Regions from separate parts of the Homo sapiens genome. Here region 2 is linked to region 1. Evidence: fine-mapped expression QTL. A gene starts in region 1. The other region holds a variant in brackets. All regions are shown on one strand. Distances are from middle to middle.

The links. PIP is the estimated chance that this variant, and not a neighbour inherited with it, causes the effect. A credible set is the group of variants that fine-mapping cannot tell apart.
Region 2: its variant is the best candidate, but not a certain one, in a credible set for the expression of OR52K1 in whole blood (TOPMed, PIP 0.62).

What each region holds. Positions count from the first base shown.
Region 1 is chr11:4,479,440-4,484,826 of GRCh38, reverse strand. It overlaps OR52K1 (olfactory receptor family 52 subfamily K member 1), which reads right to left and starts at 2,181. Exons shown (of 2, transcript NM_001005171.3): 1 at 1,651-2,181.
Region 2 is chr11:4,449,609-4,454,995 of GRCh38, reverse strand. It overlaps OR52K2 (olfactory receptor family 52 subfamily K member 2), which reads right to left. Exons shown (of 1, transcript NM_001005172.2): 1 at 4,635-5,387. The coding sequence ends at 4,712. Among named protein-coding and RNA genes, the nearest start is that of OR52K2, 3.0 kb to the right of the region's middle. The variant G/T (reference allele first, on the strand shown) is at 2,506.

The sequences.
Region 1 (5,387 bases):
TTTTAGAACAGAAGTATCATGTCTTTAGCTGAAGCAAATTATCCAGTAGTAGGGGAAAAGTTGAAACTTAGACGAAGAAAGAGAATACTGCTCCTGAAAAGACCGTGAATATTGCATCTTTCTAGGTGGTCTGCTGGTTGATCATTGAGAATATAAACATATCCTGAAACAAACACAAATTTACATACCTTACATTCCTTGTAAGCTCCAGACTAGGATATCCAACTCCATACTCGATATCCCCACATATCTTCCTCACAGATATGTCAAACCTGCCATGCCTGAGGCAGAAATCATGACTACTTCTCTTCTTGTGCTGCCCATATCTCAGAACGTAACATCCTGCCCAACCAGTTGCTCAACCTAGAATCAAGTCATCCTGGATTCTTCTCTTTTCTTCCTGCATCATATTTAATCATCAGCAAGCACACTGGATCATCCTACATAGTAAATCTCCACGTTGCCCATTGCGTTTCCAACACTTCCACCCTTCCAACACCATCACCCTTGTTCAAGCCACAGCATCTCCCAGCAACTACTGCTACAAAAGAATCCTAACAAGTACACAAAGTTCCACTTTGTTCTCCAATATTTATCCTTCAACAATTACCCACCATATCATGAAGTGAAGGGACTGGAGTTAAGAAACTCTACCTATTTTCCTTCTGTAAACCCAGCCTCTAACATACATAGGTGTGGAACATTTCACTAAATAAAACAGACTACTAGATTATTGGAAGACATATTTCTCAGAATACTACTCCCCTCATGTGATTTAAGCTCAGAATTTGGGTTATCTTCTCATTTAAAATGCATCCAGAATGGAGGTTCTAAGCATCCCGATTACAATACTTTGTTACCTGCATCAGAATAAAATTCTCTTCTTAATGGAAAATACTATTTTAAATATTCATAATGTTTGTGCATTTTTGTCAGGAACAAGCTCTTATGACAACAGACATTTTTATTTTCAAGTACATATCAGTACCTAGAAACATGCCTGGCGTCTAAGAAACTCTTCTAAAATACTGTGAAATAATCCCACAAACCTGCTGCATCTTTACCTTATCTCAATATGTATTTTCCACAAAACCCACATGTTTTACTTTGAGTCTCCATGTCCCCCTAGATTCCTCCATTCAACTTTTAAACATCACTAACCACCCTGTGAGCTGTCTACCCATCTTCATACAAGAAAAAAAGGCATCTCTTCTATCAGATTTCTTCCTGAAAAGACAGGGTGTCTAATAGTTCATAAATCTTACTTCCTTTGAAGTTCATCTAAAATCAACTCCTCAGAATGAAGTGCTCTGAGTAGGAGTGTGAATGGAGCCAGTCTTCTTCCCCTAATATCCAGAAACTAAGACCTCCTCTGTAGTGCAAGTTTTGTCCAGACTGTTCATTGTTTTCAGAACTAAGATGTCCATGCTCAAAGGATTTATCTTCTATTTCTCCTTAAAAAAGGCCTCTGTACCCAGAATGGACTCAATTAATACTGAATCTATTTGGTTGCCTATACCTTTATCTTAAAAGGATATCAGAATGACATATCTGAAAAACTTAGAACCAGACAAGGAAGGATAATCACATAATCAAGATACTTCAGGACTGCTTCTGGTAGAAGAACCTCAAAGATAAGGTATTTCTTACCTTTCCCTGCCATCTTTCTAGTTCAGGCCTCGTTTTCTTCCTCTTGACTAATGCAGAAGCCCTTTAACTGGGATGGGGCATTTGCCAGGGGTTAGAAAAAGCAATGACAGGAGGTGAGAAGTGACAGATCCAAACTGGAATAATCAACTAAGACTTCTTGGAGATGGCCCACAGTGTTTGGCATAGGACGGAAGCAGGCATCCTCTGTGGTGGGGAGAGCATCTGGAGTTTGTGTACCAAACAGTTGGGTGGGACTATCGAGACTTCTGTTCCCTCTATTGAAGGACCAGAGTAGAAGCAATAACAGGGTTGGAGAGCTGATGCCTAAGATCAGGAATGGCTATGGGAAGAAATTGACAGTGCCCCCACCTTCCAGCTCACTCCCACCTTCCTGCTCACCCCAATAACATCACTTGTTTTCTATTTCCCTAAGTTGCAGCTGTATCCACAGTCCTCAGTCTGACTTACAATCCTGGGCCCTTTTCATTAGCTTCATGCAGCACCAGTGCCGCCTTCCTCTTTCAGTCTAAGGAGTCTTAGAAGGAGGAAGCTGGGAAGCGAGCAGCTGGCTTTAATCCTCACCAACCTCTGCCCTTCTCCCAGAAGGCTGTGGAAGCAGAAACTGCTGCACTTGAGCAGAGTCCTCAGAGACATCTCTGGCCTCCTCTCTCTGGGTTGATGCAAGGGGACTTCCCCTGACCCAAGGGGACTGTATCCTTGTTTCCTACAACCCATGCCTCCTCCCCAGCTAGTGGCACTGAGTTGTGCCTACCAGGGGTCATGCCCTACTTGCCAGAGGCTGTGAGACTTTCAGGTGGAGCTGGCTTGTGTCTTGGTGTTTGCTGTGCCTCTCCTTACTCTTTATCCTTACAGTGTCTTCAAAGAAAGCCAGCCTCATCAGAAAATATACACTGCAGGCAACTCCTGTCAGAACTGACTTGAAAGGGCAGGGAGTCCAGCCTGACCAGGCCAAGGTCATCCATTAGGCATTTTATTTTGCATTCATATTTCATATTGGCCTGAGATATGCATTAATAACCAGCTCGTGAACTTGATCTGGCACCTGTCTGATCCCTGATCTATTTTTCTTATCTCTAAGGTAGAGATAACTTTTACAATATTTTCTAACTCACAAGGATAGGAGGATCTAAGTAGATAAACAAGAGGCCACTATGAATGTGATTCCTTATTAATAATTAGGAAATTACCAATCATCTATAAATGATAAAGAGTGATCTTTCTACCTACAGCTGACTTAATGTGTGCTATTTTTCAAGGACCTGAGAAGATGCTTTTCACTAGAGTTCTCCATGGATTTTGTCTACCCTAATTCCCCATAATTTTTAAAAGCAATCTCAGAACGCTGTAACTCAGTCATCTCACTCCCTTCCCACACAGGTACCCTGGAACTAACTTCCCCTTCTGTAATAGTTGGCCCTCAAGGGTGTGGACTCAGCACTCCTCCATGATAAGTCTGATCTTTTGGGATGCTGGGATAAAGTGGAATTCCTACATAGTTTTAACAATGTACAGCTAGGCCAAGGGGATACAGCCTGTATGAAAAGCACCTCACCAAAACCTAATATGGCAAAAGCCAGATAAAAGCCAGACAAGAGCCAGATAGAATAGACAGTGTTTTTGTGAACAAAGCACCTTAATTTGCCCCCAACTCCATTCTGAATGGGCAATCCTGACATCATAGGAGCAGGATAAGAAGCACATGGAGTGGGGGAGTGGGCAGTGGGGCCATTGGCTCAAACCATGCTGGAGATAACTGCTGGAATATTGGAACACTTAGACTGTTTAATTCATTGACATCCTCCCCACCCTATCTTTTCTTTTGTAAAATCTAGATTCTTTTACATTCATATGCATCTTTGTTTTGGTGTTCTTCATTCCCTCCAGGTTTTTCATGTTTCCATCTGGATCATTTTTTTTCTGCATGAAAAACTACTTTTATTTTTGCTTTTATTACAGGCCATATAGTGACACATTCCATCAACTTTTGCTCATTTGTAAAATTATCTTAGTCATCTTTGTTTGTGAAAGATGACTCACCTCCCGGGCCTCTGTCTAAAATTCTATTTCAATTTGAATAGGTTTTTAAATGGGCAATTCTTCTTTCATCCACTTTAGTATATTAATTGTATTCTGCCTTCACTTGCTTTTTTTGAAGTCAAGTATCTATTAATATCAGTCTTATTGTTGATCCTGTGAATATAATGTGCCCTACCCATACCTGGGTGCTGCTTTCTTTTTTTTTTTTTCCAGTTAGCTGTGATCACACAGAACATTGTAGGCCTTTGTATCAGTCTGTTCTCACACTGCTATGAAGAACTACCTGAGACTGGGTACTTTTATGGAGAAAAGAGGTTTGACTGACTCACAGTTCCTGCAGGCTGTACAGAAGCATGGCTGGGAGGCCTCAGGAAACTTAGTCATGGCAGAAGATGAAGGGGAAGCAAGCAGGTCTTACCACAGCGGAGCAGGAAAAAGGGAATGGGGGCGGGGCCATACGCTTTTAAACAGAACATCAAGGGGGAAATCTGCCCCCATGATCCTATCACCTCTCACCAGGTCCCCTCTTCTGACATGTGGGGATTACAATTCGAGAGGAGATTTGGGTGTGGACACAGAGCCAAACCATATCAGCCATGTAAGGATTTCACTTTGCAAAGGTTCATAATTTCTCTCGGAATAAAAGCCAAGGTTGAGCAGTGAATTGACATTATTTGACATATGTTTTTTAGATATTGCTTCTGACTTAATGGGAACAGCACAAGATGATGAGGATGAAAGCAGAGAAAGGATTACAGATGCTATTGTAGGCATCCAGAGAGAAGATGGTGTTTCCAAATCAATGTGTTAATCATATATATGGAGAGAAATCAGATGTATCAGATTTTATATCTATTTTTTAAGTGCCAGTGGGAATTCCTGAAAAATTAGCTCCAGGCTGTGAGAGAAAAAGAAATCAAAGATAACACCAAGACTCCTTGCTTGAGGAACACGTAGGTGGGAAGGTGTTGTGAGGGTTGCTAGGCAGAACAGGATCCTATACTCAAGCATTGATCCTACTTTAAGGATGATGTGCACCTCTGTGTCCTAGCTTGGAATGTTGGGATGACCTAGTTTTTGAGTGATTAGAAGTATTGCATCTAGGCCTAGATAACTGCATCAAGTTTCCTTTATCCTAATCTATATACCCATCTATATGGGTATAAAATTATATGTGCCTGTAGGCTACTCATATTTCTTATTCATGTTTTGATTGTGTGCTAAACTCAAATGAGCTCATAGAGAAGGTAATTTTCCTTTTACTATTTGTGACTAATCCTGGCTGTGCTAATGTTATGTTGATATATTACCTGTCTATGGGATCCTTATACTACTGGACTTGTTCTGGGAACAAAATTATTTCTTCACTGGGGATAGATATGACCTTAAGGATGATGTTATTCCCCGTATAAGTCAATGGGAAAATAAGATTTCTCTTGTTGGAAATACCTTTTAAAATTCATGCTCTTTTCCATGTTTGTTTATATGTGGTTACAACTTAGTGTTTATTTTTTAGCTGCCCACCTGCCCCAACTATTCTCAGACAAAATAATCAAGAGGTGTTGACTACATGAGGCATTTGTCTTTGTGTCTGAGGGATTCATGGGAGCAGTGATGGAATATAAGGGGAAGCAAGAGTGTAGGTTCTTGCAATACTCTTGTCTCCTGCACAGCTTCCA
Region 2 (5,387 bases), 30 kb after region 1:
TTAGCATTGGCATGTTGATGTAAACCCCACGACAGGAATCCAGCGTAAGCCATATGAGGTGACCACAGAACTGCAGATCAGGACCACACTGGCTTCGCACTCAATTGTGCAGCTCACCCACACCTTTTCAACCTCCAGGATGCCCTGACCACCAAGAAATACTTTACTGCCCCTATGGTTTTTCTTACCACAGTCTGTGCACAGTTACCTGGTCACTGCAGTATTTGTAGGCCTTTTCCTCCCATGTTGCTGAGAGTCCTGGTTTTATTCATCACGCTGGGTGGGGCTCAATTCCTTATTCCTGAGGCCACTGCAATGAGGCAGCGGGATGCATCTCCTCATGACAGGGGTTTGCAGACCCTTCCCCAGAGGAGAATGGGATCCCTGATGAGCCCCCAAATTGTTAGAAACAAATGCTTGATGCCACAAAGAAGAACCAGCACTCAGGCAAAAAGTTGTCTCAGAATGGCAATTTACTTCTGCAGAACAGTGCTACCTGCATCAGCCACGATTGCAAGAGCACACCAAACAAAGGAGAAAAGGGGTTTTTATCCCTAATTCCTGTTTCTGTGTCCTTTCCCCATTGGCTGCAGTTGGACCTCACAATCTAAGCTATCCAGATTGGCTAAGACTTAAACTTCTCCAAATAGGGTAAAAGACTTAAACTTTTCCAAATGGAGTAAATGCACAATTTGCAAAGGGAGGAGGGGAGGGAGAGACTGTTATTAACTAGGCAGGAGGGAAGGCATGTCTAGGCATATCTGGGTGCAGCAAGGAGGGAAGGGTTGGTCACAGAACAGAGAGAAAAAGGAAGTTTGAAACTTCTTCCAAATAAGGTAGTGAGATGAGGACTTTGAAGGCCAAAGCAGGGAGAAGGGCTAATTTACAATCTTACAACTTATAACAAGAAAGTTAAGTTTTGAAGAGGAACTTAGTTGTTCTAACACCAATATCTAGTCCCATATCTGCTTCTGTTATGCGTATATAAGGTATCCAAGTTATCAGCAGTGAATCTGTACAGGTTTGCAGCAACCTCAATTCTTGCCTCCTCAGAAAAAAGAATTTTGAGGGTCATGAGGCAGAAAAAGAGACCAAGGCAAGTCTCAGAACAGGAGTGGAAGTTTATTAAAAAGCTTTAGAGCAGGCACCAGGTACAGTGGCTCACACCTGTAATCCCAGCATTTTGGGAGGCTGAGGTGGGTGGATCAGCTGATGTCAGAAGTTCGAGATGAGCCTGACCAACAAAGTGAAACCCCGTCTCTACTAAAAATAGAAAAATTAGCCAGGCATGGTGGTAGGCACCTGTAGTCCCAGCTACTTGGGAGGCTGCGACTGAAGAATAGCTTGAAACCAGGAAGCGGTAGTTATAATGAGCGAGGTCATGCCATTGCACTCCAGCCTGGGTTACAGAGAGAGACTCCATCTCAAAAAAAAAAAAAAAAAAAAAAAAAAAAAAAAAAAAAAATAGCCTTAGAGCAGGAAAGAAAGGAAAGTACACTTGGAAGAGACCCAAGCAGGCGACTTGAAGGACAAGTGCCCCACTTAATCTTGATCCTGGGACTTTATAAGATGGCCCACTTCCAGGGTCTTGCACCCCTTTCCCATGATTCTTCCCTTAGGGTGGGCTGCCTGAATGCACAGTGCCCTCCTTACCCTTAGGAAGTGAGCATGCGCAGTGTGTTTAAGAAGTTGTACGCATGCCCATCTGAGGCTTTCTTCAGTTTTCTGACAGAATGCCTCTGGAAGGTCATACTCCACCACTTTGTTTTTTAATGAACATGCCCAGGCTCACTTGCTCATTTCCTGTGATTTTACTGGAAACTGATTACCAATCTCAAGTATTTTCATCTGTTTGGGAAGTTGCCTCTCTTAGGTACCTGAATTCAATTAACACTTTAGTGTGGCAGCTTGGACCATCGGGAGATTGTCTCTCCCTGGCACTGATGGCCAAGTTATCATTTTTAGAGGGGCAGTGTGGTAACTGCCCAACCATCACTTGACTATAGTCAGACATTCCTGGTGGGTAGGTGGTAGGGCCCCCTCCTGCCCCACTCATGCCTGTCTAACTACCTGTAATGTTTCCCCCCACTCAAGAGCCCAAGACCCCAAATCTTTGGAGGAAAATGGATGAAGGTCAGTCTTTTGTAACTGCTTTCTGCTGACAGAGGGGTGGTGGTGGTGGTTCTGTGGGTCTTGGCCTCTTGCTGTCAGGGCAGGAGGGTGACTCAGTGGCTTAGCAAAAGTGGTATCCAGCCAGGTCCAGGGGCAGAATTTTGCCTACTTTCTGTCCACTGATGAGCAGTCTAGCGGTTCCCTGTAGAAGGGTACCTCTTGAATATTGAGAGGACAGTATACCTCACGGAGGACCATCTGGAGCTTGATGGCCTGGGGGTGAGAGGAGACAAATTGGGTTTAGAATTTAGAAGACCTGAACCAAAAAGGTGCAAAACTAGGAGAATAACAAGTGGTCCTAAAAAGGAAAGAACCCAGGAGAACCATTTCCAG[G/T]CTCCTTCCCTATCTAACCAACCCTGAGAGGCAAGTTCCCATAATAAATGGAGGCTTGATTTGGAAGTCGTGTGATGTTGTCCTGTACTTTTCACAGTTGGTTTACCCAAAAGCAATACTTTTCATCTAAGGCTGAACAAAGTCTTCCTTGTGCTGCCATTAGCATATCTAGTCCTCAACAATTCTGGAGGGAATGCAAATTAATACAACCACTCTGAAAAACAGTATGGAAGTTCCTCAAAATACTAAAAATATAACTACCATGAGATTTAGTAATCCCACTACTAGGTATTTATTCAAAAGAAAGGAATCAATATGTCAAAGAGATATCTGTATTCCTATATTTAGTACTAGACACAATAGCCAAAACATGGAATCAATGTAAGTGCTATTAATATCTGAATGGATAAAGAAAAATATGATACACATGGAATATTAGTCATAAGAAAGAATGAAATCCTGTCACTTGCAGCAACGTGGATGAAACTGTAGGTCATTAAGTTAAGTGAAACAAGCCAGGTACAGAAAGACAATTATTGTATTTCTCACTCATGTGGATGCTAAGTACAGCTCATGAAAATAGAGAGCAGATTGGTGGTTATTGGGGGCTGGGAAGGGAGGCAGGGAGGATAAGAGATTAATTGAGTATAAAAATACAGCTAGATATAAAAAATAACAAGATGTAGTGTTCAAGAAATCAGTAGGGACTATAGAAAACAATCTACTGTATATATCAAAATAGCTAGAAGAGAATAATTTTAATGTTCCTAGCATAAAAGAAACATTTAAGGTCATGGATATTCCAATTATCCTGATTTGATCATTATCTATTATATGAATATATCAGAATATCACATATACTCCAAAAATATATATATCTAGCATGTAGCAATTTTTTATGTAATACATTATTTCTCTGGGGTATTTGTTTTTGTGTCAAAGGGAATTATAAGAGCAGAGGTGGAATATAAGGGGAAGTAAAACTCTAGGTTCTTGCTATACTCTTCCCTCCTGGACAGCTTCCAACCTTCTACACCCCACCTGAAATAGGCTTGGAAATTATCTTTCAAGGCTAAATAATATAGACAGGTAAATAGAGAAAGATACAGTGATAGCAAAAGAGATATATAATTTCTAAGCAATAATATCTGAGGAAACAAGTGGGTCAGAAGATAACAGCAGAACAATGTATTTATACAGGGCTTGTGTGAAAAGCTTAGCTGTGTTGTCAGGATTAATAGAGAATTATATAGTAGGTAAGTTCACATGAGACAGGAAAAGAGAAACATAATATTCTTGCCTCCTATCTGCTTGGTCTTGCTCTTCTTTTATTATGCTGGGCCTTGGGATGGAAATTTCAGAGAACAGAATCTATCATAATTATCATTTCCTTCTCTGTCTTAGGACAAATACACAAGTCTGACACCCCTAATTTAGTATATGTGTCCCCATCCCCTATCACAGATTTGGTGGAATTAGTAAATAAATGAGCCATTCTCATTCTTGAAAACATAAGATACATCTATGTGCAAAGAAAGAGTTGCATGAAACATAAAGCCAGAGGACATGTCTTATTCAAAGTACTTAATAAAAGGAATTGGACATAAGGATGGATTGGTAAATATAAGCAAAAGAATACACATACTGGCTTAGGTGAAAAAATGATTTTCTAGCAAGCATAGGTGTCTTACTCAGAACCTGCAGCCCTGGAATGTTTCAAACTTCCTAACACTGAGTGTTTCATCAGAAGCTGGACACCACCAGTCAGAATGAATGAAGGATTCCTATGTCAGATATACTGTTGGCCCTCACCCAGGTCCTGAGTAGATAGTTCACCAAATTCCCAATGACTAAGAAAAGAAACTCAGATTTTCAAAGTCTTCTCTTCAGCAAATGAAGTTGGAAGCATCTTTGTGTCTTTCGGTGAAGTCACCTGGAGACCCATGGGTCAAGTCTCTGTCAAGTTACTGATAGGGGTGAGGGCACTGTGAGAAGACAGCACAGTCAGCACATTCAATCCACAGGCTACCAGAGGACACAGACCCATGAGTCCTGAACAGACTGGTGGCTCTGAGTTTCAGGACATCATTTTTTTTTTTTCCAAGAAAAAACTAAACATGAAGATCCTGGCAGCCGTGCACATTCTACCATAGCCTGTCTCCAACTCCAGCAGACAAGCCAACCCATTCTTTCTCCACCTCACCCTCTACATATCCTTTCTTGGGAATACTCCCAAGATGCTCTCACGGATTTGCTTGGTCTTGACACCATAGATTATGGGATTGACCATGGGTGGGAAGAGCAGATAGAAATTGGCAAGGAGGATGTGGACATGAGGGGCAGCATGGCGGGCTACACGGTGCATGACTGAAGAGATGACCACAGTTGTGTAGAAGGCTAAGATGGCACCTATATGAGAGACACATGTCCCAAATGCCTTGTAGCGGGCCTCCTGAGAGGCAAGCAGTAGAACTGCCTGAAGAATAAAGATATAAGACAGGATAACAAGGAGCAGGTCCAACACCACAATAAACATGGCCACAGCGATGCCATAGATATTGTTGAAGCTAGTGTCCCCACACGCCAGCCTCACCACAGCCATGTGTTCACAGTAGCAGTGAGCGATCACTGGGCCTCGGCAGTAGTGGAAACATCTCAGCAGGAAGGGGAGTGGAGTCATTAGTGTCACAGCCCGGGCCACAGCAGCCATGCCAATCTTGGTGATGAGGGACCCAGTCAGGACCTTGGTGTAGTGCAGTGGCTTGCAGATAGCCACATAGCGGTCAAAGGCCATGGCCAGCAGCACTGCTGACTCCATGATGGAGAAGGAGTGAAGGAAGAACATCTGGGCCAGACAGGCAAAGAAGTTTATCTCCCGATCC